2 separate regions of the Homo sapiens genome follow, and region 2 is linked to region 1. The links come from fine-mapping of genetic effects on gene expression. A gene starts in region 1. The other region holds a variant in brackets. All regions are shown on one strand. Distances are from middle to middle. Region 1 holds the start of ZNHIT3 (zinc finger HIT-type containing 3). Region 2 has its middle 22 kb from the start of TBC1D3F.

Evidence for each region. PIP is the estimated chance that this variant, and not a neighbour inherited with it, causes the effect.
Region 2: its variant is fine-mapped to the expression of ZNHIT3 in whole blood (TOPMed, PIP above 0.99).

The regions. Positions count from the first base shown.
Region 1 is chr17:36,483,336-36,495,705 of GRCh38, reverse strand. ZNHIT3 (zinc finger HIT-type containing 3) reads right to left here and starts at 9,025. Exons shown (of 5, transcript NM_004773.4): 1 at 8,921-9,025; 2 at 8,740-8,771; 3 at 2,807-2,893; 4 at 1,700-1,780; 5 at 1-483. The coding sequence starts at 9,006. The coding sequence ends at 302. LOC105371749 (a long non-coding RNA gene) reads left to right here and starts at 9,027. Exons shown (of 3, transcript XR_934710.4): 1 at 9,027-9,119. It overlaps MYO19 (myosin XIX), which reads left to right. Exons shown (of 26, transcript NM_001163735.2): 26 at 1-70. It also overlaps the pseudogene RNA5SP439. RefSeq lists an enhancer at 8,371-9,304.
Region 2 is chr17:36,455,110-36,467,636 of GRCh38, reverse strand. It overlaps the pseudogene TBC1D3JP. Among named protein-coding and RNA genes, the nearest start is that of TBC1D3F, 22 kb to the right of the region's middle. The variant C/G (reference allele first, on the strand shown) is at 4,228.

The sequences.
Region 1 (12,370 bases):
TATGAAGTGTAAGCTTGATATCGTTTATGATGTCTATCAACTGTACCAAAAGTAAAACATTTAAAAACAATCATCTGAATGTCAAGTTTTCTCTCCATAAAGGACTTGCCACCTTAAGGACCCCAAGTCTGCCTGAAACATGAGCCACATCAATGCCGGTAAAGGCCTGCATGACCTAATCTGCATCCTGGAAACCTCTTTTGCCTGAGCTCCCCAGCCCCAAACTAGCTGGTCTGGGAGAGGGAGCAGGCAGGTTCCAGGAGTCAAGCACACGCTTGAGCAAGCAGCACAATAATCCATCTTAAGACTCCTCATTCTGGGATGGCTCCACAATTCCTAAACAGCAGTCTGCAAACTCCACAAACAAAGGCTCTTGCATGTAAGCTCTCATGAGCTTTGCTTTGTCTTCTCCCTGATCGAGGTTGACCATCAACTGCCTGAGGTGTGGATTGAGCAATAAGCTTCTTAATGTTGCAGATTCCCCTAAAAATTAACAAGAAAAAAAGCCAGTCTGAGTTCAAGTGGAAACACATGGAGATGGCTGAAAAGTGAAGAGCTATTTCAAGTGTAATAAAACTATCAGCAAGGTGTGGTGGCTCATGCCTGTAATACCAGCAACTGGGGAGGTCAAGGTGGGCAGATTGCTTGAGCTCAGGAGTTCAAGACCAGCCTGTGCAACATGGCGAGACCCCACCTCTATAAAATGAAAGGTAAGACCAGCATATCAAACTATTTCCGCATTAAATGCAGTAACAGATACCAGTTCTTGGTATCTTTGTAAATATTGTAACTTCGTGCCACTTCAGCTAAGAAAAAAATGCTTTATCAGCACAATCACAAAGCAAATAGTAGCATTAAGCTGCTGGCATGTTTTCTTTCTTTCTAGCCATAAAAGTTGCCAGTGGTGAAGACGGCTATACGAAATAATCTGAATGATGTCTAAGCATGCCATTTGGCATGCAGCAGCACCAGTAGCAGGGAACCAACAATAATACCTGCATGGTACTTCACAGTCTGTAAAATTTTTCACACCTATTACTAGCTCATCTCCAAACTCAGTCTAACTAATCATTACCATGAGACTAAGTGCAAAACATAACCTTTTAACATGATTCTGTGAAATGGGAAGAATGAAATTAACAGACCCCATGCACATGTAACAGAATGTTGTAAGGACTGAATAAGCAGTGCTACAAAAATGGCAACACCTGTTTCCCCCTAAATCAAATCATGTGATAACCAGTTTGTGTTAAGGGCTGGACTGTGAGCTGAGCACTGGGGATCTGGGAATACAGGTCCCTGCTGTACAAATCGGTATGTGAGAGACAAATTACCATGAAATGTAACAGTGATTTATTACTATTAAGTCCAAGTTGCTATGGGAAACCAAAAAAGTGCCTAATTCTGAAAGAGACACAAAAGGTCAAGAAAAGCTTAGCTGAGTGAAGAAAACTTGAACCAAGGCTTGAAGGAGGAGCAGAATTTTGCCAACCCACAAGACCAGCAGGATTCCAGGCAGAAGGAATGGTGTGGGCAGGCTGGGAGGTGTGAAACCCTGTATGTTTACAGATTATGTGGCTAGATAGTAAGAGCCCTACATGCCATACTTATTCAAGAAATTAAAAACTTTTTAAAAAATCACAATCCTTACAACACAGTAAATGTATCTCAACGATTGACAAGCATAGCACAGACTTACCTAAATTCTTTAAATTCTGCAAAGAAACTCTGTCTTCTTCCTCATCACTATTGAGAAAATCAGCTATAGAGTCATCATCATCTAAGGAATACAAAACAGTCAATGGCTCATGGCTAAAAAGGAGGCCTGGGCACCAGATTTTAACCACTACTTGAACAGGATAAAAATGTGTGCACGCACATGTGATAGTGATAGGGGTATTCAAGCAGGTACAGACAAAAATCCTCTTCTCCGGAGTCTGTGACTATACTAACACTCCTTTTTTAGAAGAGGGAGGCTAAGTGAAAGAATTGGTGATTTTAACAAATGCACTCTAGTGTTCACATCCTTACTGTATATGTGGTCCTGTGGTCTTTAGGCTTAGACCCCGGTTGTCTAATAACTTAATACCCATCCCCACCTCAACATGGCTCCAACCCTGTGATGGGCCAATTAACTGGATGCTCTGTAAAAACCAGCCAAGTAGAATCTCCTGTGCTTTCAGCATGGGCAGAAACTGCTGGCATTGCCTGAACCCAACCTGGAAATTTCTCAAAGGGCAAAAATGGGCCATGCCTTTGGAGTGAATGTTCAATACCTCTTTGGTGGCACCAGAGGGGCTGCTTTCAGAGCCTGGCATGGTGCTTGACACCCAGGAGGTATTAAAGAACGTTTAGATGGCTGGACGGATGGGTTGACAGCCCACTACTGCTGTGAGCTCTGAACCCCCAGCAGCAGCGAGATGATCTAGGACAAAGAAAGCCTCCTGCCTGGGCTGAGTTCAGGTGAACTGACAGTCCCAGCCAGATTCATGGAGGGAGACCAGCAGCTATGGGCTAGAGAAGGCTCCTGCCAGCAGGGCCCACCGCAAACCCCCAAACCACAGCCATGGCCTTTCTCATCTCTGTCTTCTGCCCATTTTTCTTCTCCTGAATACTGCTTTCAGGCTGTTGCCTCAATATCACCCATGATGACATGGCCCCACTCCTGATGCTCAAGGCTAAGGAAGCTGTTCCTTCCCAATGAAGCTATTGTTCTGGATTCCCTGACCAGCCCCACTCTCCCCTTTTCCTTCGACTTATTCTATGTGAAGTCCCTTGTAGATTTGTTTGAAGTCAACCAACCCACCTTTGTTTTCCACAGGCTTTACGGTTTTGGTAGGAAGAGCTGATCTTATTTTTTTCTCAACAGGACGAGTTTCAGGGTTGCACTGTTCTGAAAAAGACACAAATCCCAGGCCCACATTACCTCCATTTCAGCGACAAGGCTGCACCTCCCTACCAAGGTAGCATCTAGGTAGGAAGCAAGTGTCTGGGGTAAGGGATGTGGGTGGGTGCCCAGGAATGTGGAAGAAGTGAGAGATCAAAGCAAGAGAGAGATTAAGGAAAACCGCCAGCAGGCTGAGAAAGCAGGACTCATTCATGCACCCCAAGAACCTGTCCCCATCCTCCCTACCCTGCCGAATCTTACAAAATTCTCACCACAATTAACTGAGGTGTTTGAAATAGCTGCTGTAAACCAGATACCAGATGGGATAAAACTAGGGGCAAAACCACCAAAGAACTTACAGAGTCAACAGAAGGCCAGCTGTGCTGGCTCACGCCTGTAATCCTAACATTCGGAGGCCAAGGTGGGAGGATCACTTGAGCCCAGGAGTTTGAGACCAGCCTGGGCAACCTAGCAAGACTATGTCTCTACAGAAAATAAAAAAAATCATCCAGGCATGGTGGTACACACATGTGGTCTCAGCTACTTGGGAGGCTGAGGCAGGAGGATCCCTTAAGCCCAGTGTGTCAAGGCTGCAGTGAGCTGTGATTGTGCCACTGCACTCCAGCCTGGGTGACAGTATCAACAGAGCATGAAGTCACAGGAAAGGGTTCTGAGGACATAAAGGCAGGACCAGATTGTAGAGACTTAAAATGTAGATTTGACAATATGCTACGGAAAGGTTCTAGTCATGTAGGTGGCAGTTACAACAGCTGCCAGTGACTAAGTGCCGAGCACTGTGCCAGGTACACAGTGAGATACATAGTGGCTCAATGAACCTTTACGAAGCCCCCATGACATGGAGACTGTTAATTCCACTTACAGATGAAAGGATTAAATTTTCTTGTAATAAACTTGTCCATTGGGGTCCACAGCTAGTAAGTAGCAGAGGCAGATTTGGAATCCGGGTCTAACTTTACGGCTATGCTATATGTGTAAGGAACACAGCAGGAGGGACTGAAGGAGAGGTGAATTTTCTGGGTTGTACCTGACCCCAAAATACATTTGTGTCTAAGGTGCTCAAAAAGAGGCTGGAGCTAAACAGTTGGATGTCAGCAAGAAAAAAAAAAGTTTAAAGTGAAAGAGAGATCACCTACCTAGGAATAAAAGTCAAGGACCACATTTCAAGAGAGAGATCTAGCAAAAGGAAGGAGAAGCTGGGCACAGTGGCTCCTGCCTGTAATCCCAGCAATTTGGGAGGTTGAGGCAGGAGGACTGCTTAAGCCCAGGAGTCCAAGACCAGCCTAGACAATACAGTGAGACCCTGTCTCTACGAAAAATAGATAAAGTTTGTCTCCGTTACTCAGGAGGCTAAGGTGGGAGGATCACTTGGGCCCAGGAGGCCAAGGGTGCAATGAGCTGTGATCACACCACTGCACTCCATCCTGGGCAAAAGAGCAAGACCCTGTCTCGAAAAAAGGAAAAAAAAGAAAACGAGAGTCTACAGCTAAGCCACCCTGAATGCACCCTATCTCATCTGACCTCAGAAGCTGTAACAGGGTCAGGCCTGGTTAGGACTTCGAAGGGAGAAAGGGAGGAGAGAATACCACAGAGCGGTATCTTCCCAGCCTCCAAAGAATATCAAGAAAGAAAAAGCCAAACACAGCAGATATTCATGGGAATCAAGAAAGATGACAGGCTGAGCATGGGTAGCTCACGTCTGTAATCCCAACGCTTTGGGAGGCCAAGGTGGAAGGATCACTTGAGCCCAGGAATTCAAGACCAGCCCAGGCAATACAGTGAGACTTCATCTCCACAAAAATTAAAATTAAAAATAAATAAGCCAGGCATGGTGGCACACGCCTGCAGTCCCAACTACTTGGGAGGCTGAGGTAGGAGGACTGCCTGAGCCCAGGAAGTCAAGGCTATAGTGAGCACCACTGCACTCCAGCCTGGGTGACAGAGCAAGACTTTGTTGCAAAAAAATAAAAAAGACAAATGAAAAGTGTACAACAGATGTGGCTATTAGAAATTTCTGATAAAAATTATTTATTAAATACCACTTTAACACTGCCTATAGCAGCAACAAAGGCAAAATTAATGTAAATATCCACCAATAAGAAAAATAAATATTAAAATGACCATACTACCCAAAGTAATCTAGAGTCAATGCAATCCCTATCAAAATACCAATGATCCTGTTCACAGAAATGTCAAAAAAAAATTCTAAAATTAATATGGAACCACAAAAGACCCCCAATAGCCAAAGCAATCCTGAGCAAACAGAACAAAGCTGGAGGCATCACCACTACTTGGCCTCGAAATATACTACAAAGCTATAATATCTAAACAGCATGGTACTAGCATAAAAATAGACACATAGATCAATGGAACAGAATAGAGAACCCAGATATAAATTCACACATTTACAGCCAACTGACTTTTCACAAAGGCACCAAGAGCATATACTGGGGAAAAAAGCACTCTTCAATAAATGGTACTGGAAAAATAGGATAACTGTAAGAATAACCATATGCAGAAGAATGAAACTAGATCCTTATCTGTCACCATATATAAATATCAAAATGGATTAAAGACCTAAATGTAAGACCTGAAACTACTACAAGAAAACACAGGGGAAATGCTTCAGGACATTGGTCTAGGCAAAGATTTTATGAATAAAATCTCAAAAACACAGGCAAGAAAAGCAAAAATAGGCAAATGGAATTCTATTACACAAAAAAGCTTCTGTACAACAAAGGAAACAATAGAATGAAGAGACAACCCACAGGATGGGAGAAAATATTTGCAAAATATTCACTTGACAAAGGATTAATATCTAGAATACACAAGGAGCTCAACAGCCAAAAAAAAAAAAAAAAAAAAATTAAGTGGACAAATGGGCCGGGCATGGTGGCTCACCCCTGTAATCCCAGCCCTTTGGGAGGCCGAGGCAGGTGGATCACCTGAGGTCAAGAGCTCAAGACCAGCCTGGCCAACATGGTGAAACCTTGTCTCTACTAAAAATACAAAAATCAGCCAGCAGGCACCTGTAATCCCAGCTACTTTGGAGGCTGAGGCAGGAGAATCACCTGAACCCTGGAAGCGGAGGTTGCAGTAAGCAGAGACTGCGCCACTGTACTCCAGCCCGGGCGACAAGAGCAAGACTCTGTCTCAAAAAGAAAAAAAAAAAAAATGGGCAAATGAGCCAAACAGACACTTCTCAAAAGAAGACATATAAATGGCCAACAAGTACATGAAAAAATGTTCAACATCACTAATTATTAGGGACATGCAAGTCAAGACCACAATGAGGTATCATCTCACCACAGTAAGAATGGCTATTATCAAAAAGAAAAAAACATGTTGGCAAGGATGTGGAGAAAAGGGAACTCTTATACACTGCACTGTTATTGGGAATGTAAATTAGTATAGTCATTATGGAAAACAGCATAGAGGTTCCTAAAAAAAAACTACGAATAGAACTACCATATGATCCAGCAATCCCACTACTGTATATATATCCAAAGGAAATGAAATCAGTCTGCCGAAGAGATACCTGCACTCCTGCGTTTACTGCTAGTCACAACAGCCAAGATAAGGAATGAACCTAAGGATCCACCAACAGATGGATAAAGAAATGCGGTACATATATACACTGGATATTAGCCATAAAAAACCATGAAATCCTGTCACTTGCAGGAACATGGATGAGCCCAAAGAACATAATGTTAAGTGAAACAAGCCAGGCACCATAAGATGTTCTTGTTAACATGTGGATGCTAAGCAAGTTGATTTCACAGAAGTAGAGAGCAGAATAGTGGTAACTGGAGGCTAGGAAGAGTAGAGTGTAGGGGGCTAGGGAGAAGTTGCTTAATGGATACAAAATTACAGCTAGATGGGAGGAATAAGTTCTAGTGTTACACAGTACCTTAGTGTGACCATGTTGGCAGCAATTTATACTTTCAAATAGCTACAAGAGAGGATTGCGAGTGTTCCCAACATGAAGAAATGATTATTTGGGGCGAATATGCTAATTACCCTAATTTGATCCTTAAACATTGTATACAGGTATCGAAGTATCACACTGTAACTCAAATTGTATGCAATTATGTGTCAATTAAAAACAAATATTAAAAAGAAAAATCAACCAATAGGAGGCTTTATATAAATAATGGTCGTACCAACTATATAATGAAATAACATACAGTCCTTTAAGTCAGTGAGCTAGAACTTGTATGCACTAGTCTTTATTTTTAATTTTTTTAATTTTTTTTTAGATGGAGTCTCACTCTGTTGCCCAGGCTGGAGTGCAGTGGTGCAGTCTTGGCTCACTGCAACCTGCGTCTCCATGGTTCAAGCAATTATCCTGCCTCAGCCTCCTAAGTAGCTGGGATTACAGGCGCGCACCTCCACACCCAGCTTATTTTTGTATTTTTAGTAGAGATGTGGTTTCATAATGTTGGCCAGGCTGGTCTCGAACTCCTGACCTCAGGTGATCCACCCACCTTGGCATCCCAAAGTGCTGGGATTACAGGCATGAGCCACTGCGCCCAGCCTGTATGCACTAGGTTTTAAAAAGTGCCCAATATATAAACTCAAATGAGGATGTTGGGTACAGTCTCATTGCTGAGATTCTAAAAGCTAAAAAAAAAAGTTCTATATATTGGTACAAGAGTGGAAATAAGCTGAAAGAATCTACATCAAGCTTTTTTTTTTTTTTTTTTTGAGACAGTCTTGCTGTCTCCCAGGCTGGAGTGCAGTGGTACGATCCTGGCTCACTGCAACCTCCTCCTCCCAGGCTCAAGCGATCTTCCCACCTCTGCTTCCTGAGTAGCTGGGACCACTGGCACAGGCCACCACGCCTGGCTTTGTTTGTTTATAGAGACGGGGTTTCGCTATGTTGCCCAGGCTGGTCTCAAACTCCTGAGCTCAAATGATCCGCCCGCCTCGGCCTCCCAAAGTGCTGGGATTACAGGCGTGACCCACCGCGCCCCACCTACATCAAACTTTTTTTTTTCTTTTTTTTTCCAGACTGAGTCTGGCTCTGTAGCCCAGGCTGGAGTGCAGTGGTGCGATTTCGGCTCACTACAACCTCCGCCTCCCGGGTTCAAGCGATTCTCCTGCCTCAGCCTCCTGAGTAGCTGGGATTACAGGCGCGCACCTCGCCCGCCTAATTTTTGTATTTTTAGTAGAGACGGAGTTTCACCATGTTGGCCAGGCTGGTCTCGAACTCCTGGGCTCAGGTGATCCACCCGCCTTGGCCTCTCAAAGTGCCGGGACCACAGGCGTGAGCCACCGCGCCCGGCCAGGTCACTTCTTTTTAACTGTACAAAAGTGTGTTCACATCATACACAGAACTTACTTGGTTCTTTTTTTCTCTTAACAAATCAAGGACGTCTCCTTGTATTGTACATGGACTTACCTCTTTGTTTCTAACAAGACATTATTTACACGAGTGAAAATACTGTTAAAGTTAGCGCAGTTTCAGCCAAATGGTGAGGGGCTACATCAGAATACTGAGGAAGAAACTGCTAGGGTAGACCTCGGTGGGAAAAGCAATCGGAAACTATTTCTAAGCAAAAAAGAGTAACACGCAGAAGGAGAAGCGGGGTAGAAGAAAGGCTACTGACCAAAACCCTGAGAGCGATTACAGGCAGGGACAACAGAGGGAACTGTCCGACACACAGAGACACCAGGGACCAAGTCAGAGGAAGCAAGGTTCCTGCAGAACCCGCGGAGACCCGAGGCGGGAAAGGAAGCGCAGCCCAAGGGTCCACGCCCCCAAGACGGAGGCTGGACGTGGGGGCTGCCCCGTGCGCAGTGGTACGAGGGCTGGCGGGGACGGGGCTCACCTTTGTGCTTCCGGAAGCAGACTACCGAGCAGCTGTAACAACAGAGGCCACAGGCCGCGTCAGCCCCGAGGGTCCCCGGCCCCTCCAGCAGCCCGCCCGCTCCCGCCCGGCCTCCCGGCCTCCCGCCCTCCCGCCATGGCCGGACACCCGCGCCCCTGGACCCCGCGACCTCCCCGCTCACTAGGGCACGCGGCAGGCTGGACAGCGGTATTTGGGCTTCTCCAAGCAGATCACGCAGACGACGGTGCTACATTTGAGCGACGCCATGGTTTTGTGGAAGGAGACTGTTCACTGCGCCGCCGCGCGCCTCTCACGCAGCCGCGCCCGCGTGCACGCCCCTTTTTCCGTTTCCTAAACGGGGACCAATCAGCGCTCAGCAGGTAGGCAAAAGCAATGGACTGATCCTGCTCACTGTTCCAGCCCTCGTACTTAGAGCGTCGATACACTCGATGCGCATCTATTAGCTGCGTCCCAGGTTTTCCTTGATTAGATCACAGCGTCGAAGAACTTGTTATGTAGCCCAGTCCCTGTCCCTATGCGGCCGTGTGGCTTGGAGCAAGCCATCGACACTGTCCAGGTGTGTTGCCCCGCATGTAAAAAAGAAAACAATACATGGAACTAAACGTCCTTTACTTTCTGGCTGGGACTTCCTGAATCTTGCAGGGACATTGGGGTTCATCCGCCCATCTCATCTGCTTATTCTTGGCAAAGGACAAGTCCAGACATTGGGCGAACCAGAATCGGTTGGATCACGCAGTAGACAGGAACCTGCCCTTCCCAACCTAGACCATTTTTCACTGGGGAAAGAAAGATGAGCCTGAACAGTGGCAAATGTTTGAGCTCCAACTGTGAGCCCTTCCGGGCTGGGGACCCCCCGGGGTCTTCTAATGAAGAAGTCGTCTCTGTCCCCTGGGAACTAAATGCTTAGAGTGAAAGTAGGACGGGGAAACGGGGAGGAAAGAGACTCACTCTTAGAGTCCTGCCGTCGCTACCCTGCACCTGCACGCCCCTGAGACTGAGTGCTTCTTAAATTTTGCACTCTAGGCTCCTCACACCTCCCCCTAGTCCCGGAAGCTAATTGACCAGGAAGCAGGCCAGTGACCACTAGTCCCAAGACGGGGATCCCAGGCAGATGAGTCTGGATAGATGGGCTATGATGGGACTTGAATGCCACCACAAACTTTAGGTTTAGAAAAAGTAATGTTTTTTGTTGTTTGTTTTTTAAGGAAATTTGCTTGCAGCTAGGCATGGCCCAGCCTTACCTTAGCTCCCATCCTACCTGCACTGGGCCCTCCCAGGGCCATAAATCACCCTTACTCCCAAGTGCCTCCTCTTCTGTGTTGGCCGTTCAGCCTTCAGGGTCCCTCTTCAATAAAGGTGTCTGCAGGGATGTATCTGCAACAACCGAGGCAGTGGTTTGAACCTTGGCTCAACCCCCTCCCTGGCTGTGTGACCTGGAGGGGTTGGTTACCCCCTCTGAGCTCCCTCATCTATTAAAGTGGATGTTTGGGCCTACTTTCCTGAGCTGTTGTAAAGCAGAGAGGAGACCATGTGCAAAAGTTTTGTAATCAGAAGTGCTACCTGATATCTAGAAAGAGTCTTAACTCTCATGGATCTCCGTCTGGACCGCATGAACATAGGTCCCAGGCCCCAAGCCATGCTCTCCAAAACAGTTCTGCCGCCTGCTTCTTGAGTGGGAGGTGAGTAATTATCCTTCCTTTGGGCGTGGCGACCCAGTCCAGTCCTCAGTGCTGAAGCTGCTGGGCCCTCTGGCCACCTGCCTGTCCTGCTTGCAGCTGCCCCAGCCTCCAACTTCTGCCCAGGACCCAGCTTAGAATCCAAAACGGGTCCACACAGGCCCAGTAACCCGCAGCGTTCCTCATATTGTTCAACAGTTGTACCACTGATGATTTGAACTTGAAGCATCCCAGAAAGTCCAAGCTTACCTGGGAAGGCCAGAGAAGGCCAGTGACTTGTCCAGGGCCATATTTAAATCCTGTGCCAAGTCGGGCATGGTCGCATCAGCCTGTAGTCCCAGCTACTTAGAAAGTTGAGGCTGGAGGCTCACTTGAGCCCAGGAGTTCAAGGCTGCAGTGAGCTATGATTGTGCCACTGCATTCCAGCCTGGATGACAGAGAGAGAGAGACCCCGTCTTAAAGACGAAAAATTTAGGCCAGGCGCAGTGGCTCACGCCTGTGATCCCAGCACTTTGGGAGGCCAAAGCAGGCAGATCACTTGAGGCCAGGAGTTCAAGACCAGCCTGGCTAACATAGCAAAACCCTGTCTGTACTAAAAATAGAAAAAATTAACTGGGTGTGGTGGTGCACGCCTGTAATCCCAACTACTAGAGAGGCTGAGGCACAAGAATCGCCGGAACTCTAGAGGCAGAGATTGTAGTGAGCCAAGATCATGCCACTGCACTCCAGCCTGGGCGACAGAGCAAGACTCTGTCTCTAAAAATTAAAAAAAAAAAAATTTAATTTAAAATCCTGTGCCCCACCAGGTAAGGTGGCTCACGCCAGTAATCCTAGCACTTTGGGAGGCCAAGGCGGGCACATGGCTTGAGCCCAGGAGTTCAAGACCAGCCTGGGCAACATGGCAAAAACCCATCTCTACCCAAAAAGATACAAAAATTAGCGGGGGGCAGTGGCTTGAGCCTGTAATCCCAGCTACTGGGGAGGCTGAGGTGGGAAAATCGCTTGAGCCCAGGAGGTGGAGGTTGCAGTGAGTGGAGATCACGCCACTGCACTCCGGCCTGGGTGACAGAGCAGGACCTTGTCTCAAAAGGAAGAGAGAGAGAGAAAAAAAAACAAAAGATCCTGTACACTGTCTGGCACGGGTAGAAATTTGCCCACTGTGGCGGACTCACCACTGTCTGCTTGATTTGTCCTGTGATGTGTGTACCAAGGCTGAGGCCAGAGACAATCCTAACCATTTTCAGGGGCTCAGTCCCTCCCACCTGCATACAAACCACGCTGACTCCCTATCTGCGAGTGGAGAGATGATGACTCCAGAAAAAAAAAAGAAAAAAGAAAATTCGGCCAGGCGCGGTGGCTCACGCCTGTAATCCCAGCACTTTGGGAGGCCAAGGCGGGCAGATCACGAGGTCAGGAGATCGAGACCATCCTGGCCAACATGGTGAAACCCCCGTCTCTACTAAAATACAAAAAATTAGCCAGGTGTGGTGGCACGCGCCTGCAGTCCCAGCTACTAGGGAGGCTGAGGCAGGGGAATCCCTTGAACCCGGGAAGCGGAGGTTGCAGTGAGCCCAGATCGCGCCACTGCACTCCAGCTTGGTGACAGAGCGAGACTCCATCTCAAAAGAAAAGAAAATTAAATTCCTGGAATCCTTCCCATGCACATCCACGCAGGGAAGAGGCCCCTCCTCTACTCTGGATATCTGGATGCCCCCAGCTTTCCCCGACCTTCGCACCCCTCGTCCTCTAATGTCCGGGAAAGGAGGTGGGCTCAGCCGCGATGGCGGTTAGGTGGTGGCACACTAAGGCGCACAGCGCAGCTCCTCCGGGCAGTGGCCAGTTCAGACAAGAAAGGGGGCTGTGACCCCAGGCCCAGCAACTAGATGTCCACACTGATGTCCCCTCCAGACCCGTCCTAATGGCCACCCAGGGCT
Region 2 (12,527 bases), 28 kb after region 1:
GTGTCCTCCTGCCTGAATTCCTCTTTTTCCCAGGAGACTCAGGCTAGGGTGGGGAGAGTCTTGCTAAAGCCCTAAGCAAGGAAGATTGATTTCCAGGAGTGTAGACAGGCTAACATGGGCAATTCAGGCCTTCACCTTTATCTGTGTAGATAATGTTTCAGACACACGGAATAGTCCAGGTGTCAAATTCCTTGTGGAAAGAAAACTTGACATTGATCTACTGTCAAATGGTTGCTTTGGTTTTTCGAATAGTTAAGATAGACATAATCAAAGATCACATCATTCGGCAAATTTTTATTTATTAAATACCAAAATTTGGTTCCCTTTTAACTACATGCCTAATCCTACTTCCTTTCTCAGCCAGAATTGTAAACCTTATTTTATTCTGGCTTTGCCTGGGTAGTCCCACCATTGTCTTCCAACATTCTCAGGGGAATCTGTAAGATTGCTATCCGAAAACTTTGTGGGGGAAATTATACAACAATTTGAAAAACTTTAAAGAGTACATAAATGATGGAATGTTAGTCCTATGTACTAAAAATGCCAATTATCTTGTAATTCATTTAAACAGTCAAAGAGATTCTAGTCTAGGTGCAGTGGCTCATGACTGTAATCCTAGAAGTTTGGGAGGCCAAAGCAGGAGGATCACTTGGGCCCAGGAGTTAGAGACCAGCCTGGGCAACATGGCAAAACCCCGTCTTTACAAAAAATATATAAAAATTAGCTGAGTGTGGTGGTGTGTACCTGCAGTCCCAACTACTTGGGAGGCTGAGGTGGGAGGATAATTTGACACTGGGAGGCAGAGGAGGATCACGTGCAGTGAGCCATGATTGTGCCACTGCACTCCAGCCTGGGCGACAGAGCGAGACTCCGTCTCAAAAAAAAAAAAAAAAAAAAAAAAAAAGTCTTTAGCCAGAATGGATCACCATTGAATGGGCCTATATTTTCCAAGCAGGATTTGATTAAATCTGGTCACACTTTAGGCCTCAAATTCAGAGATGATGTAGGCAACGCTCAGTGGAGACATCCCATAATGGAAGTGGACAGAAGTCCAGGAAGAATGACCTGACTCTGCAGTGCCACCAGAGTTGCTATAAAGTTCTGAAATATATTATGTTTCTTCATAAAAGTTAAGTTCTACAGTCAGCATGAAAGTCAGAAACTACATTGCGGTTTTTTTGTTTTGTTGTTTTTTTGAAACAGAGTCTCACTCTGTCACCCAGACTAGGCTCACTGCAGCCTCCACCCTCTGGGCTCAAGCCATCCTCCCACCTCAGCCTTCTGAGTAGCTGGGACTGCAGGCATGCACCACCACGCCTGGCTAATTTTTTATATTTTTTGTAGAGACGGGATTTCACCTTGTTGCCCAAGCTGGTCTTCAACTCCTGGGCTCAAGTGATCTGCCTGCCTCAGCCTCCCAGAATGCTGGGATTACAGGCCTGAGCCACCATGCCCAGCCAGAAACATGTTTTAAACCAACCCTCAACCAACCCATACTTTGGAGAAATACCTACAGAAACTAAGATTGGTGGGAGGCCCAGCAGCGTCTCACCTCCCATCTCAGACTCAGTCCAGGACACAGGCTCAGGGGGCAGAAGGAGGGCTGATTCGCCTGCATCTTTTGAAATTCTTTCTTTCTGTCTCTGCCTCTGCCTCTCTCTGTCTTCCTCCCTTCCTCTCTCTCTCTCTCTCTCTCTTTCTCTCTCTCTCTCTTTATTTATTTCACCTGAGTTTCAGAGTCCTTGGCTGAATTTGTCCACAACTTCCTGCAGCTCTAGCTGGGAGCCGAGAAGCATCACTGAGGACCACAGCCCCTTGCTTCCCAGAGCCCGGTCCCCTGCACTGAGACTGCTGTTTTGGCGCCTGTGGTGGTCCTCTTCATCCTCCACTCTGCTTCCCAACTCACTTACCACATATGGTCACCACCTCCTGGGTCATGTCACAGGGTACCAGGGCTGGAGTTGTTTCACCAGGTCAACAGGCATGGCTGCTGCCCTAGTTAGAGAATGTCCTAGAAGACAGGTCAAACCATCATGACATCCTTGGGACCAGGGGATAGGAGACAGAGGCCCCCAGTGCACAGTTGTGTGCATTGGTGCCCATATCCCCTTGCTCAACTTCTAGGAACTGGCTCTGGCCCCCTGCACACTCCACAGGCCCCTCCTGCCAATCTGCCTCTAACAATTTTCCTGCCTTCCCCTTTGGAGGGCAAAGACCAGAGGTGGCCCCTTGTTTTGTTGAGAAGCTCAGGGATCTGGTTCTTCCAAGGAGTCTTGGAATCAATCCCTCCTTGTCACTGTGCCCTAGAGTGTCTTGTAGCCTCCATTCCCATGGGTCTTCTTGGGCAGGTGGCAAATAGAGCTGACTGAGCAGTAGGGTGACTCCTTCCAACCTAGAATCCCAAGCTGCACAGTAAGGACGTAAGAGGACCGCCAGGCCCAGCACTCCCACTCTCCCCATGTGAGGGTAAAAGTTGATGACATCTCCCAGCCCTGCGAAGGTCCCGCATCCCACTACCTGCCCTCCCGCAGCTGGAAGGGCTGACTCCTGGAGAGGGAGGATTTACCTGAGGGCTCTGACCACCTTAACTGCCCAATGCCTTTCTGGAGACAGTGGCTGCCAAAGGAGACACGGACCTGTTGCCCATCTGGACAGTGTTTGTCAGGGAAGAAAGGGCGGCTTATGCAGCAGCCAGGCAGCACCGGGAAGGAGCTGGGTTGCTCCCGCCTTCCCGTTTGCATCACGCGACTCCGCGGGTCCCAGCGCGGCCCTGGCTAACCCGGATCGGCGCCACTGCCGGGTCACTGAGCCTCTCCAGGACGGAGCCTCGCTTCGCGCAGGAGCCCAGGCCATCCTCGCTGCGGAAAAAAGGCGGGATTCCTCTCCTGACCCATAGTAAACGAGCTGCGCTGGGGCGCGGGGAGCAGACTGCTTTTCTGGGGAAGCCGTGGGGCTCTCCACTTTTCGGGGTGGGGAGGGGAAGCTGAGCAGGGCGCAGACCAGGGGCCTGCCACATGGCCTCTGCGCCAAAAGAGTAGAGCCCAGGATGAGGGGCCCCTAGCCAGGCAGACCCAGCCCAGGAGGTTTTGGGTCTTGGGGCCTTGGGTGTGGACTGGTCCTAGATGAGCCCGCCAGGTTGGGTGCCACCGGCCTTGACGGGTTCAGGAGATGGGACGTTATGTCTAGACGCCGCCACGCTTTATCGCAAGCCCGGGCCTCATCTAGACCCCAAGGGGCACCCCAACCTGTTTAGGGTTCCCGGGACTCGTGCGCTTGCCCGCCTAAGGCGGTAAATTGCCATCGTCTCCAAAGGCCGCCCCCACTTCGTCCGCTCCCCACCCGCCCCCAACCCCAGGCTCAGAACCCGCCAGAGCAATCCAGGCCCGTTCTCTAGGTCAGAAATGCCGGCCCTGGGGTCATTTGTCCCTGTAGGGAGAGCGCCACCCGCTTGCCCCGGGGCGCTGTCCAAGCCGCGGTGCTGAAGCGCTCCGGGCCCTGACTCAGCGAACACACAGTCGTCACCGCGTGCAGCCGCCACTCCCCAGCCTGGGCCCGCTCCAGGCCGCGCCCACACCGGCTAATCATCCGCCCGGATGCACGTCTGCCTCATCAGGCTTAAACTAGAATCGCCTCGGAGGTTGGAGATTCCTGAGGAGGCCCAGAAAGGGCCAATGCTTGTCCCGGGCCAGGCAGCTGGGAGAGTGTGGAGCTCCATTCCTGAGCTCCATCCCGGATCCCGCAAGCAGCGGCTCACTCTGCCTGCTCCAGACCCGTCCCCTCCAGTGAGCCCAGAGGAGGGTCCACTCACTCTCGAAGAACGCATTCTTCCCACTGGCATCCAAGCCCAGCAGACCCTGCTACCTATGGGGTGGTGGGGGGGAGCGCAGTCAGACAATCCCTGGAATTGGTCCCGCACACCGCCAGCAGTGAAGATGCCTCTCTCCCTTATTTCTGGATGCCCCCCACAGCTTCTATGGATGCCCACAACCCCTTCCTCCCTCCACCCTCAATGTCCAAGCAGGCAAAGAAGACCGGGTGTCCCCAGTGAAGGGCTCTGCAGTGAGGGGTCTAGAATCTTGCCCTTGAAGGAGTAAATGATATCCCTCGAGTTGAGCGTGATCATGATGGCATGATATTGGGCCAGGCACTAGTCCAGCAAAGAGAGGCCAGAAGAAGCAGCCAGATGGCAGTGCTGGTGCCCAGAACCATGACCTGTCTTGCCCCAGG[C/G]CCCCACGGGTGACTTCTTAGAGTCGGCCAAGGATCAGTGCAGGCCAGGAGAGAGATGAGATAATAGTCAAGGCAAAAGGGTTTTGAGAGGATGTTCCAGGGGAGCAGAGCTAGCTGCCAGCACTCATTTGGTAGATACAAATGTCGTGTCCTGGTCTCTGGTCTCGGCAGATGTGTTCAATAACTCACGTCTGGCATCTCCAACTGCTAGGCCGTTCCATTTCGAGCTGTGGAGAGCATTCTGGCTAGACCCCGTGAGCAGGGCCCCAGGGGACTGGGCTCTGTGTCAGGGATGAGTTCACACTATGGCAAAGAGCAGGTGGTGGCCTCAGGGCTGTTGAGCTGTCCCAGAACAGGATTCTTTTCTTTTCTTTCTTTCTTTCTTTCTTTCTTTCTTTCTTTCTTTCTTTCTTTCTTTTCTTTTCTTTCTCTTTCTTTCTTTCTCTTTCTTTCTTTCTTTCTTCCTTCCTTCCTTCCTTCCTTCCTTCCTTCCTTCCTTCCTTCCTTCCTTCCTTTCTTTCTTTCCTTTTTTGAGATGGAGTCTCACTCTGTCACCCAGGCTGGAGTGCAGTGGCATGATCTTGGCTCACTGCAACCTCCATCCCACGGATTCAAGTGATTCTCCTACCTCAGCCTCCCAAGTAGCTGGGATTACAGGTGCCCACCACCATGCCCAGCTAATTTTTGTGTTTTTAGATAGACATGGGGTTTCGCCATGTTGGCCAAGCTGGTCTGCAACTCCTGACATCAAGTGATCCACCTGCCTCAGCCTCCCAAAGTGCTGGGATTACAGGCGTGAGCCACCTCGCCCAGCCCAGAATCAGGATTCTTAAAATGATTGTGCTGCATACTGAATCATGTTGCTTTTGACTCTTGTAGCTGGCCCCCTTCCTTCTCTAGGGTGCCTGCTGGTACACCCTGGATGATGTCTGAGACAGATGGTGCTGCTCAGCCCCTTGAGGGGCTGCTCTGCCCCATGGTTGAGGTGGACTGTCAACCATGGGGCAGGAAGATCTAACTCCCCTCCCTCATGGTCCTCACATTGTGGGTCCCCTGGCAATAGATAATAACAAGTGTCACCATGGACATTAGAGTGACCCCAAGAGACAGAAAAGGTGGGTATTAGTGAACACATTAGGGGAGACAGAAGGGCAGAGAGGGCACGGGACAGTCACCAAGACTCCTAATGACTAACTTCTTCAAACTTCTCAGCAACATCCTCTTCCCTGTCCCCTGCTCTCCACCTCATCCATCAAGGAGCTGATGCTAATGGGGTTCCCTTGTTCAGAGCCAGACTGCTATGGTTACTATGGTAGTTAACAAACAGCCACTCCAGGCTCTTAACAAAGTAATCCTCCTGGAGGGACAGAAGAGGGCTTCTGTGGCCCGAGGACCAACATGTTACCTCTTGGCTGGCTTGGCAGCCATGGCAAGGACATGAACAGCATCCACTGAGGAAAGGAGACTGCTGGGCACACCGTGGGGAGGGGCAGGAGCCTGGAGGAAGTGCAGATGTCGGGATTTGGCTGCCGGCCACACCTGCTGGGCCCTCAGGTCGTGAGACACAAAGTGTTGCTTTACCTTCTCATTGCGGTAGCCAATCCAGAGCTGTGACAGCAGTTGTTGGGGAAGAATGTGAATCCAAACGCATTCAGCAAGCCTGCTAGAATGGGAAAAACCCAGGGGGCCCTGGGAGAGGGTCTCCCTGAAGCCCAGGGTGGCAAGGCTCCCGCCAAATAGAATAATTCAGCATCTGTATAAACCAGAATAATTCTACCACCTGGATGACCTACAGTAAGGCTGAGGAACATCACACTGGGCAGTGCACAGAGCAAATGCAACCCTCCATACACCACCTGGAATGGTCCCCGTTTCCCATTCTGCTCTCTCTGTGAGCCTAGAACAGATGCAAAGGCCCAGTGGAGGATGAGGGGCAGCCCCAGCGCACCAAGGCCTACTTTTGAGTCTGTATTTTCTGGTCCTGTGTCTCTTAGGAGTAGCCCCTTCTGCTGGAACTTCTGAGCAGCTTTTTAATGCCTCATCCCCAGACAGGAAGAGATAGTCAAAGATTGTTAGCCTTTTTGAGGCCAGATGTGGTGGCTCATACCTGTAATCCCAGCACTTTGGGAGGCCGAGGCAGAAGGATCACTTGAGGCTAAGAGTTCGAGACCAGCTTGGCCAACATGGTGAAACCCCATCTCTACCAAAAATACAAAAATTAGCCAGGCATGGTGGCAGTCCTGTAATCCCAGCTACTCGGGAGGCTGAGGCACAAGAATCACTTGAACCCAGGAGGTAGAGGTTGCAGTGAGCCAAGTTTGTGCCACTGCACTCCGGCCTGGGCGACAGAGCAAGACTGTCTCAAAAAGACAAAAACAGAAACAAAATCAATTTGATGGAAAGAAAGAACTAGTCTAAGAAAAAGAAAGAGCTTTTAGAATTTAAACTGTTTAGCCAGGTGCGGTGGCTCACACTTATAATCCCAGAGCTTCTGAAGGCTGAGGTAGGAGGATCTCTTGAGACCAGCCTGGGCAACAAGTGAGACCCCATCTCTTAAGAAAAATGTTTTAAATAATTTAAGCTGTTTAATAAAAATTCAGTAGGATTGGAGGATAAAGTTGAAAAAATCTCCCAGGAAGTTAGCTGGAGGTAGGGGAAGGAGAATTGGAGTAAAAGAAAAGGAAGGAAGGAAGGAGACGAAAAGAGTTAGTTGATTAACTTCGTATTAGTAGAAATTCTAGGAAGAGAAAACAATAGGGAGGAAATTATTATAACGAATTTTTGTAAATCCCCAGAATGGAAGAGCATATGTTTACCAGCTGAAGGAACTGATACCACATATCCACATAATGCGTGAAAAAAATACCATAGAAAGCACAGCACTGGCAATTTTGAAAAATGCCTACAGGATAAACAAAAGATCCTAAAACTTCTGGGGGAAAAGAAGTCCACCCCCTAGGGACTAGATATTGTCACAGCAACACCGGAAGAATACAGAAGTAAACTTCAAATGTTGGAGGGAAAACTATCTCCATATGGAAGTACATATCTAGTCAAAATATTGATCAAATGTAAGAGTAGAAAAAAGATATCATTAGATGTTCAGGGTCTGAAAACTTTACCTTCCATGTACCTCTGCCAGGAAACTTCCAGAGAATGTACCTCACAAACGTAAAGAAGTGAACTAAAATGCAGAAGCTGTGAGACTCAGAAAAATGGGATGTCATGGGGTGGGAGTGGAGTGCCTGGGGACCCCATAAATGAAGGGGCAGAAACACTCATGCATGACAATTCATAGCAGGAACACGAGGCAGCCAGCCCAAACAGAAGCGGGAGGTCTGAGAGCTCCAGAAAGCCTGGGAGATGCCCTGGTCATTTCCCTGTCCCACCCTCCTACCCCTGGTGCCTCACCCAGGGCTGGCAAAGGAAGGGAGCTCAACTCATATGTGGATGATGGCAGATCCAGCGCACAGGCACGAATGAGTTCATGATGAAAGTGAAGTGCCAGGGCATGAGAGTGAAGTGCCGGGCAGGCAGTTCCCTCTGAGCAGCTGTGCCACTACCACTTGACACACACTACATGCTCCTGCAGCAGCCCTGTTGCTGCCACCAGACGCCCACACCACCCCGGGAGCCTCTGTCCTCGCCCAGCCAGTCCTCAGCATTGTCCCTACCTCCATGGGAACAGATATGAGAGGGATGCTGGTGAGCGGCAAGCAGGCTGCTCCAGCAAACCCTCTTTCATAAGTAACCCAGTTAACTTCTGAGGTGCCCTGAGCATCTGCTATGCTTGGCACCAAGTGCTTTATATGTGTACTTTTTAATCCACTGGGAGGCCATTTTATAGGGAGGGAGCTGAGGCTTGGGGTCTGAGGTGGGGGCACCAGGCTCCATCTCCTTCCTCATGTCCTGTGCCGACCCTGGGTGATTACCCTCAACCTCAAGTCAGAAACCTGCCCCTTGTGGGCAGGGACCCAGCATGGCCGGAAAGGGGTCTTTGGTTGGGTTTGTGTGGTCTACATCATGAGTCCAGTCACATGGGATTCCCAGTACATGATAGGGTATTCTGGTACCTCCAAGACCTGGGGTGGCAGGGCAGTGAGAGGGAGGGTATTTGTAGACCAGATAATGCCAGATTTGGGTTCAGTGCTACTGGACCCATTCTGTATGTGGAGCAGAAACAAGGGAGCCGGGGCCCTGTACTCCGATGTCTGTAGCTCAAGGAAGGGTCTGACGCATGCCCTAAACAGAAATCCACCATGGCTTAAGGCCAGGGGCACTGGGCAGAAGAGGACCAGGCAGAGGATTGCGGTGGGCTTTGGAGAAACCAACACTGTCCTGAGCTCACATGTCAAGTACAACACAGGAACGAATCCCTTCACCTTCCTCAGCCTCAGTGTCCCCAGCTAGAAAAAGGGGGTCAAGACAGCCCCTCCTTCAGGGTTGTGGTGAGGACTGTCCTGGGCCAATTGGCCTAAGACCATAAGAGACAGACCTGTACTTCAACTAAGTAAAGATTATTGACTCTCTTAGTAATAGCAGAGACCACACACCAGAGGACACGGAGATTGCCTCACCAAACAAAGGAAAATATAGTTATTATGCTATAGTATTGGAAAAAAAGGTAGAGTGTAGATGGAATTTTTATTGCACCAGCTTTTTGGCTGGGTGCAATAGCTCGCACCTGTAATCCCAGCAATTTTAGAGGCCAAGGCAAGAAGATCACTTGAAGGCAGAGTTCCAGACCAGCGTGGGCAATATAGCAAGACCCCATCTCTACTTTTTAATAACTAAAAAAATAAATAAACCTTTTTTTAAAAAGACATGATCTTATTATATTGTCCAGGCTGGACTCAAACCCCTGGGCTCAAGTAATCCTCCCACCACAGCCTCCAGAGTAGCTGGGACTTCTTACAACAGGGAGCCACAGTGCTTGGCTAACGCACTTTTTTTTATAGACTCAAAGCTAAGGCCTGGACTACGAAGGGCCCAGTATTCTATTTTCCTTGAAAACTACATAAACTTGGAATGTGGTGCCCAGAAAACTTTTTTTTTTTTTTTTTAGATGGAATCTCAGTCTGTTGCCCAGGCTGGAGTGCAGTGGTACAATCTCAGCTCACTGCAACCTCCTCCTCCCGAGTCCAAGTGATCCTCCTGCCTCAACCTCCTGAGCAGCTGGGATTACAGGTGCGTGCCACTATGCCCTGCTAAGTTTTGTATTTTTAGTAGAGACCGGATCGATGATCCCTCAGGGATCATAGGATGGAGAGACAGAGGATCCCTGGGGAGGTAGGGTGGGAGGGAGCTGATGAGCCGTGCCACTTCTGAAATGCAGGGTGTGTGGCTCTGGTGCAGGGAGAGGCAGGTGGATGCTGGGAGGTCAGAACTTGCAAGGGCCTTGGGGCTGTCATGGGGGATGGGCCCCTGGGGCACCCAGAGTACACCGGGCAGGTCTCAGGGCAGGCTCCCTTGACCCTGGCAGGGTGATGTGGTCACTCCCTGAGGGACTCCTGTCAGGGCCCGGTCGCCCACCCTGGGCGGCCCCCATCCCACCTCAGGGCTAACCTTTCTCAGCTCCAGCAGAAAGCACCACCTCGAGTCCAGGACGGGCAGCCCCACTGGGCAGCCTGACCGCCCCCCACGCCAGGGGCCCCAGTAACCCCAGCCAGGCTGTCCCTACACTCCTTCTTCTCCCAGGTCCTGCCCCTTCTGGGAGTCAGCCCCACAGGAAGGCCCTTGTCCTCCCTTCCCTGTGCCTTCTCCTGGGTTGAGCCCTGAGCTGGATAGGGACAGAGCCAGTCCTTTCTGGGGATTGGCTCCCAGTCTGGGATGGCTCCAGGCCCTGTGCAGGTCCTCAGCTTTGCCTGGGTTGTCTTACAGTGAGACGGAGCTGCCTCCTCTGACTGCGTGGGAGGTGAAGGTAAGAACCTGATGCATGGAGGGGCTGGTCCAGGGATGTAGGGACTGGGCAGGTGGTCGGTGAGGCAGAGGAGGCAGCTGGCCTGGGCGGTGGTGGGTGAGGGCAACACGCTGTCACTGGGAGGGGCAGCAGTCCCTGCTGGACCTGACCCCAGGTTGCTGTGACTTTGGCAGTTTGATAAAATTCCAAAGTGAGAACCACAGTCCTGGCTTGGGAGTGGCTGCCCGCTTGTGTCAGGACCCCACCTAGAGGCTGGGACCTAAGACTGGTGTGTTTGTGGCCTGAGGATGGCATGTCCCCAGGTCCCAAAGCCAGCCCACTGGTGCTCATTTGCTCAAAGGCTCTCAGCCATTGAGGTCTGCCCTTCCCTGGCTCCTTCCAGCTGGCTCCCACCAGGGGTCCAGAGCCCAAGACCCAGCATCCACGGGTGGCTCTGGAAAGCCTGGCAGCTCCACTAACTCCAACATACCTCATTTGACAGCAAATGTGGTGGGAGATGAGACGAACGAGCAAGTGGATGGAAATGCTGGGAGAATGGGAGACATATAAGAACAGTACCAAAGTAATGTGTGGAGGGAGAGGCCCCTGGAAGCACTCTCTGCAGAGACAGGGGACAGGCACCCATGGCTGTGGCCTGGCACCGTCAGCCTCTCAGAGGGTGGGTGGCACACTGTCCTCGCCCAGAGGACTGCAGGCCTGGTCGCCAGATTTCCTGCCTATTCGTGCAAGCGTCACCTTGCTGGGAGGGAATCTGAATCTAGGGCTGGGACTACCCGGAGCTCAAGGCTAGGGATGCCCTGGTGACCTGAAGGAAGGAAAAGGTTCAGATCAGAGTTTTGACTCTGAGTGTCCATCCACTCTCAGTCCTGGGAAGAGAGGCCCTGTCCCAGCTTGATCTCACCTCTACCGAGGAATCATGGGGCCAAAACCGACAATTTCCAGAATCCTTGGGCTCTGGTCTTCACTGGGGTCACCCGGTGGCCTGTGATACCAGATTGTTTTTTGCACACAGCTGATAGATCTAGTGTACAAGGGCATTCCCATGAACATCCGGGGCCTGGTGTGGTCAGTCCTCCTGAACATTCAGGAAATCAAGTCGAAAAACCCCAGAAAATACAAGGTACGCTCAGCCAGAGCATAACAAACAGGACAGGCCGTGTCAGGGGCCCAGGTCTCCAGCTGGAGGGAACGTCAAGCACACCCTGGAGGGGGTGGGGGCAAAGGTCAGATGAACACCCTGGGCACAGATGGTGACACAGTCACCACAGACAAACTGGGCTCTGGTGACCCTCCCCGGCTTCAGTAACAAGCCAAAAAGCAGCTTTCTGCACAAAGAAACCTTCCTTCTGTCCTTCCTTCCCAAAGTGCTGACTGTGGGCTGACTGCCACTGGGGGCAGGGAGCCTTCCATCTGTTCTGAGGCTGCTTCCTCCTCTTGGCCCTGCCCTACAGATCATGAAGGAGAAGGGCAAGAGGTCATCTGAACACATCCACCACATCGACCTGGACGTAAGCGGGACATTAAGGAAGCATATATTCTTCAGGGATCGATACGGAACCAAGTAAGCCTACGGGAGCCACAGGGTCCCAGCAGAGATGGGGTGAATGAGAGGGATGGGGGCTTCCCTGGAGTAGAAGCCAGGGTCACCCAGGAGGGATGACACAGGTGCCAAGAACTGTCCCGACCCAGGGAGCAGCCGGCACCATGAACCGAGCACCTCCCTGGTTCCAAGCCCTGGGCCAGACTGGAACATGTGGGGCCAGAACCCAGGAGGATCCTGAGGAGATGGAAGGCAGCAAACAAAATCATGCACAATGGTGAAGGGTGCTCTCCCTGACCCATGGGGACCCATGGTAGGACCCACGGGAGGGTGGCAGGATAGAGGGCCCATGAGCTCCCCCAGGCAATAATGACAGCACCAAATGCTGGGAGAATTAGGGGTCCTGGAAACTCTCATCCAGGTCTGCTGGGAACATGACATGGCACAGCCACGTTGGCAGCCAGTTGGGAGTGGCTCACAAAGCTCAATGGACTTGAACCACACATCCCCAAAGTGTCACAGATATTGAACCCACTGATTTGGAAACTGACATCCACATGAAACCTGCATGCCAGGTTCACTGCTTGATTCCTCGTCACTCACACACGGAGCCTTCGGGGACGGCCTTCAACACGGGGATGGGGAGAGCAAGGCTGGTCCTCCCTTCAAACAGAAGACCCAGTGAGAAAAGGGAACGAGCCAGTGATGCCCGCACGAATGTGGGTGGATCCTAGATGCATTTTGCTGAGGGACAGAAGCCAGACCCAATAAGCTACCACCGTAGGATTCCCATTCCTAGGCCATTCTGGAAAAGGCCAAACCACAGGGACTGAGAAGCAG